Homo sapiens: one gene and its partner. The protein of the gene in region 1 purifies or fractionates together with the protein of each later gene. This does not show direct contact. Each region holds a gene or a part of one and is shown in the gene's direction. Other genes may lie near its edges.

Region 1 (3,500 bases):
GGCAGACGCCATGTAGGCAAATAGCCCACTTCTTTTTACACGCTGGGGGATGGATGATCTTTGTACTCGGGTAGTGTTAACCCATGTTTGTGTCAGTGGCTCACCATGCTCAGAGAGCGCCAATATTCAACGCACATAGTTAAAACTTACCAAACCAAGTCAGCACAATATTTAAGACCATCTAGTCTGTGCCAACACTGAACTAGAACGTCCTGGTGCTGTGTTTAAGGCATGATGGGTAGAAGGAAGAGAGACTGGAGGGCACATGAAAATAAAGCTTAACAGAGAAAGTAGGCCCAAGTGCCTGGGGATGGGGGCACCCGACGCAAGTCTCACTTCACACTCCTGCAAAGTCGGGGAGGATGCAGTGCTGGGAACCATCTTGAGGAGGAGAGTCATTTACTTAAAATACCAAAACCCACGGGAAAAGGCAGGTTTGCCTAGGGGGAGAGGTGATCACCTAGGAGATGAGGTAATCCCAAGAAGATAGAGAAAACAGGCACCTTCAGGAAGTAGAGGGAGCTGCAGAAAACAAGCAGACAGCCCAGGGAGGGGCCCCATCATTCAGCCAGACAGCTGCAGGCTGGTGCCACCCCTGCTGTTGGCAGCCTTGGGGAGCAAGTGGCTGAGCTCTGTCAAAGTTAGGCTGGAGAGCGGTGGCCAAGGCAGACCCCAGGATGTACCCCAGTGGCTGAAACCCCCGGCTGCACCTCACACAGGCTGCGTTCATTAGTCTCTGTTTCACATCTCTTTTCTGTCTCCTCTCCCGACCCCGTCCTCCTTTCCCAGTGGAGTGCAGAGACACCACCAGGTACTGCGAGAAGGTGAAACAGCTGAAACTCTGCCAACTCAGCCAGTTTAAATCTCGCTGCTGTGGAACTTGTGGCAAAGCGTGAAGATAGGGTGTGGGGAAAAACTCTACCCTGGCCACACGAAGGACTCACGCAACCACCTCGGACAGAACCTAAGCTTTCTTCATTTTATTTATTTATTTCCCCCTCCCCACTCCACACACACCCTTCCAACCTCCTCCACCTCCACCTTCAAGCATAAGGACGTCCGCGTGTTTTCTCTTTCAGTTAGCTGGAGGACAGGATGTTGGGAAAGGAAAGGACAGATGTCTAAAGGAGGTTGCAGAGCAGGCCAGGCAGACAGTGGGGGCTCCCTTGAAGAGCTTCCTCCCTCCCAAACCTGGGTCTCAAAGACCTAGAAAGAGGCAGGCACAGCCCCTGCGGACAGCAGGGAGCCAGAAGGTTTGTAGCCTATTGGTGCAAACATTGGACAAATTCCTGTGTCTTTCCTAGAAGCGCACTATCACAAACACAGGAGTGTTTTGCTCCTTTGTCTCCTCTTCCCCATCTATGTCCCTTTAGTCACAGTTAGGACAAATGGGGAGGGGACACCATGCTGAGGCAGAAACTAGCCCAGAACTCACTCAGTTCTTCTAGTGGGTGAGTGCAGAGAGAGAAGAACTCAGATCACCAGTAGGGAGAGGTAAAAAAGCAAACAAAGCAGGCTCTAAGGCACACAACATTGCAGAAAATGAGGAAGGGAGGGGAGGGAAGGGACAGAAGCAAAAAGGAGCCTGTGGTGTTCCCCAGTGGGGCAGGGTGAGCAGGGGCTTCCAGGCTGCATGAGGCTCATGGACCAGCTCTGATCCCATGCATGTGCGCATGCTCAGAGCCCTGCTGCCCACAACAGAGCACTGCGCTGCGTGGGAGTCCCCACTTCCCAAGCTATCAGAGTCAACGTCCTGCCTGTGCAGCTGCAGCAAAGCCAGTGAGAGGTGGGTCTCGCCATGCAGTAAGGCCACCCTGGCACCTCTTTATCTAAATCCGAAGTCCCCTAGCCCCGCACTAACTAACTGCTGCTGTGGGCCAGGGCCATTTTGAGCATGAATGGCCCAGGTTTTTTGCCTTCTAGGACCTTTGCTGCTCCACCGAAGGGCCAGGGACTATGGTTAACTTATCAACATCAACCCATTAACTAGTCACTGTGCCAGAGAGTATCTGTCAGGCTGTCAGGTTGTAGCAACCTCTTCATTCCAGAGCTGGCCCAGGGACCGGGGTGGGACAATGGGTTTATGCGTGTCCACAGTACACCCTCCCTCTCCCAGCCTCCACCCCAGGGTCTGCAGGTCCTCCGGCATGTAGTATTTATCTAGCAAGGCGGGGTGGTGGAGGCAGCACCCTGGCAAAGCAGCTCACACACTGCAGCCACACTCATCAGCTGTGGTGAGGCGGCTGGAGCAAAGTCAAAGTCATGCAGCAAAATGAAAACTCTGGGACTCTTCGGCAAAATCCTCATTAAGCCGAGCAGCTTTGGCCAAGTAATTTTTGCCTCCTTCCCTCGCGTGGCCTGAGTTTAGGAGCAAGGGTGGCCAGAGTCCCTTACCCACAGATAAGCCTCCCCTCATGAAATGCCACTCACCCCGGGCTACCATTGACATCAGGGCTGCATTTCCAGCCAGCCTGGAAGTAAAATTTGAGAGGAAGACAATATTAATCTGTGTCCCCACCTAGTGAGCTGTGGACAGGTTTAAGTTGGGTCTCCTTCTTCTTCACCACAAAAACAGGCTCTAAGAAATCATGTTACTAAAAAATCAGTGTAAAGTCTGTTTAAAATAAAAAAGAATGTTTTCTATGTCTGTATATCTTTTGTGAATATTTATTAGGATTTCTTATTAAAAAAGTGCAATATTAATAATTGTACATTGTCATCCAGAAACAAAACTATTGGGGGGACTTTATTAACTAACTTCCTGCAGTTGTGTTCCTGTAAACTCAGTAGTGATTATTATATTTTTCCTATTTTTAATAGAACCTGGTGTTTAACTCTGGATCCATTCACTGTACAGGATGTGTTGTAAAAACTAACATGGGATGCTGAGGCAGTAAGAGGGAATTCATTTGTGGCATAATAGTTATGCATGGAATGATAAAGACAGACAAATTCCATACTACTACTAATGTGGTTAATTATTTCTAGTTCGATAGTGATTGAAAATCAGTGGTCACTATTTACATTTCCTAAAGAGCAAGCATCCTCCAGCTCCATGTTGGGTTGGAGCAGTTGGCAGTGGGTCTCAGTGAGCTGGCAGAACCTAGGTTTGGGTGGGAAGCAGAATGCTCGTTGCATGAAATGAATGTACATTTAATGTTTGTTCTGTGAATTGCAACTCAGCAGCACCACAAGACAATGAAGGCTGCTGGCTAATGTGGAAGGAGGCACTTTCTCCTCTAAAACACAAAACTGTATTTGTATTTTTTGTACAGATAATACAGCTTATTTATTTAAATCTTGTCGTCTGAGTCTCTGTTAAACTCAGCCTTCCTTCCCCTGGTGGTTTATGCAGGGAGCAAGAGAAGTCCCTGTCAGTTGGGTGGTTCCCAGCCAGTTATTTGCGTCTGGCTGAAGTGGAAGGATTGCAGTTTTCATCTTTACACAGGAAGCTGGGGGCCCATGCCTAGAAGTGCTAGCTCTGTAAATAAACCCAAAGA
Region 2 (3,500 bases), on another chromosome or scaffold:
TTTGACATGTAGAAACCTTTAGAACTATCTGCTTTTTTATGGTTGCAGAAAAATTATATTTTAATATATGAAATTAATATTTAACTGGTAATTTGGTAATTTTAGCAGATGTGCAGAACTCAGTTTTTTTAAAAAAAAAGCCAGTGAAAGAGATTATAAAATGATGCACTTCTGTATTTTCTATATAAGGGCTGTCTGAGCTGGACTCAGAATTTGCTTACTTATTAGCTAAACACTTAAATTTTACATTGGAACATCAGTTTTTGTATATATTTCTATTAGAGTTGGGAACAGGGGAAAGATACATGATCTGATAAAGTTTCTCAAAAGTTAAGTGAAGATTTGGTTCATCAGAGTTTTGACAGGATATAAAATCTAAATGTTTTTTCTATTGAAAAAACAAGAAACCACTTTTTAAAATTCAGAGATGCATAGGCAGTAATTTGTTTTTTAAGTATAGAAGAAAAGAATTACTTGGTCAGGTGAATTAATATCAAGTAGTGGTAAGTCTATATGTCAGGTATGCAGACAGAGCTATCTTTGAGCCTCCAAAGCCAAAATACAGAAAACCAGGACAGCTTTCTGTTGTGTTTATTGTGTTAAAACAATTTAGCTGCTAATGATAGAGTTTTAAAGCCTGCAGTAGTTTTGAATGTTAGTACTTCCACATTTTTCAAAAGTACAACATCGTAATATCAGTCATCATATGCAGTGATTCTCATTTGGCAAGGTCATGCCCTTTGTAGGGTTGGGTAGTTCTGTTAGAATCTTTGGGTGGGGACATGCATAGTTTGCAAAGGTCTTCTCATGCTCCACGGTAAGAGGGATGGATTTTCTCTTACCGTGCTCCGTGGTAAAAGAAAAATTAGTTAACATTAATGTAAACACAATAGCATAATCAAACCAGAAAATTTATCATTATATGGAAGTAAGTGCATTCATCACCAGGAATGAGAAATGCTTTACTCTAGAGAATGTTGAAAATGCTTCAAGAAGAGGGTTTTAGTCAACAACGTTGGCATTTCTCAGGGTTGGAAGCAAGCAACTCTTGGAACACCTGAAGAACAACCAGTAATGTTTCTCTTCCTTTGTAGATGATTATACTGCCATTTTGAATTTTTAAGCTTCCTTGTGTAACTGTGCCAGTGATTGTCACCTCTGTAATTTTTTCAGTACCTATTGTTAAGCAGACTTGGGAGAGCCAGGCAAGTCTCATTGAATACTATAGTGACTATACTGAAAATTCCATTCCTACTGTGGATTTGGGAATTCCTAATACAGATAGAGGTGAGTCATAATTCTTACTACTCTCCTTATTAAACATTGCCATTCTGTAAATACAGTAAATTAGGTTAGGATAAAAATGAAATGTTTTATAAGTGCTATAATTTTTGCCTCATATTAGTTTTTTCCCTTCTCTCAGATACTGATTGGTTCTTTCAAACTAAGGGCTTTATAGTACGAAGTGTTGCAAGTTTTTAGTAGCTTATATCCTATAATTGAGCACATGATAGTTACAGCAGAATTTAACAATAGATTTTTCATACCTTCATAATTCTTTGCGACCATGATGGGGTGTTTATTATATTCCCACATAAAGCTTCTCTCCTTGTCAGTCTTATAGTCTAGTTCACATATTATATTACCCGTGAGTACCACCTAATCACATTCTACACTAGTTATATGTAGAATAAACTGTATTCTATATGTTAAGATTTTAATTAGTAAATTGTTGGAAATAAACCTGCTTTTCTCTTCAAATTGCAGGCTTTCTAATTAAAAACACTTTTTAGGACATACAGAGTGGAATGGTAGACATTGGAGACTCCAAAAGGTGGGAGAGTAGAAGAGGGGCGAGGGATGAGAAATTACCCACTGAGTACGATAGACACTCTTCGGGTGATGGCTTCACCAAAAGCCCAGACTTCACCACTGTACAATATGTCGATGTTACAAAACTGCACTTGTACCTCTTAAATCTATAAAAATTTTAAAAAATTGTGTCAAAAAATGGAAGTGAAAATTTGGCCACCTCATCTTCAGATATTCTTTATTCATCTTAAGTTTTATCCAGTGTTCCTGCCACCCTTTGTTCTTTAGTTTTTTTGTTCCCCATGCCCTTTTATGAGTAAAAAAAAAAAAAAAAAAAAAAAAAAGTAGCAAACTGATTATGTTCTATACAGTAATTTATCTTATTTTATGTTAGTGTCACTCATAATTCTTTCATTAATATAGTACAATGCAGAATCAGATATGCCATCTCTGTAGTTACCAATTCTTCTAACAAGGTTAAGTGTATTACTGAGTCTGTCTGTTGCTGTTTGATTTGGAAAAACGATTTTAGATTGGGTTTAATAATCATGTATTTACTTATACCTTATTTGATGTCTTCATTACTAGTCTGGTCTTATTGTCTATATTTATATTTGTTCTAAAAGGGATTTGAGGTGGCTTTGAAACACGTATTGTAATGGTTAAAAATACACAGAGATCAAGAGTAAAGAAAATAAAGGTCAAATTGAGTGGTTTAATAGTCATTAATATAAGTTAATATTTGTGCTCCACTGTGTCACCAAATAATTAAAATGAGGGGCATATTCCTGTTTATCAATTTGACTACTCTTCCCAAGTGTTTTATTTTTGTCCAGCATTTACCATTAAAGCATTGTAATTTATCTATTGGTATCTGAAGGACTGTTACTCTGTCTTACTCAGCACTATATCTTTAGTGCTTAGTACCTGCCACAGTATCTGGCATGTTAGAAACTTAGTGGTAGTAAATATTTACAAAATAAGTAAATGAAGGTATAAGCTTCCGCCTTTGCACTGCTGCTTCCCTGTGGCAGTGGTGCCTGGGGTTCTAACAGCTCCTTCAGAATAAGTTTATCTAAGAAAGGATGCCATTGCTCATTGCTGTGAGTCTTAAAACTTTCTTGCCTGGACTGAAGTTACTAATTCTATCTCTGCCTCAGATTATCTGTGTGACTGTGTAATTCCACTCATCTCTCTAGGTCTCCATTTCCTTGTGTGAGAAATGAATGGCTTGAATTTCATTATCTCTAAAGTTCCCACTGGTTCAATGTGTCTGTGAAAATTAGAGAAGGCTATTTTTAAAAATTTTGAACTTTTAAGCTGCATTTTGGCATGTAAGCTCTTAGAACACTTCAAAACTAAAAAGAAATGAACAAATTCTATATATTTTATAAGAAATAATACATTGTAAGTTTTTTTCTTGCCTTTTCTAGGTCATTGTGGAAAGACATTTGCCATTTTGGAAAGATTTCTGAATCGTAGCCAGGACAAAACAGCATGGTTAGTCATTGTGGATGATGATACATTAATAAGGTAAGGAGTCATTCTCATCCTAAATGGCTTTAAATTCTACATATATTCATATTCAAAAAACTAGATGGGTACTTTTTCTGGCCAAGATGAAGTAACGGGGACGGGGTTTACCCTTCTATCTGAACCAATCCTCTTAAGGAACAAAATATATAAAA

The links. The genes of interacting proteins can lie anywhere in the genome.
Region 2: the proteins of ADAMTSL1 (region 1) and B3GLCT purify together in Homo sapiens (affinity purification with mass spectrometry; 2 studies listed by BioGRID and IntAct, with this or other methods). This does not show direct contact.

The regions. Positions count from the first base shown.
Region 1 is NC_000009.12:18,907,653-18,911,152, forward strand, and holds the end of ADAMTSL1 (ADAMTS-like protein 1 isoform 4 precursor), read left to right. Parts: intron 1-789; coding exon 790-896; 3' UTR 897-3,298; downstream 3,299-3,500.
Region 2 is NC_000013.11:31,283,475-31,286,974, forward strand, and holds part of B3GLCT (beta-1,3-glucosyltransferase precursor), read left to right. Parts: intron 1-1,173; coding exon 1,174-1,287; intron 1,288-3,245; coding exon 3,246-3,345; intron 3,346-3,500. UniProt on the Homo sapiens protein: O-glucosyltransferase that transfers glucose toward fucose with a beta-1,3 linkage. Specifically glucosylates O-linked fucosylglycan on TSP type-1 domains of proteins, thereby contributing to elongation of O-fucosylglycan.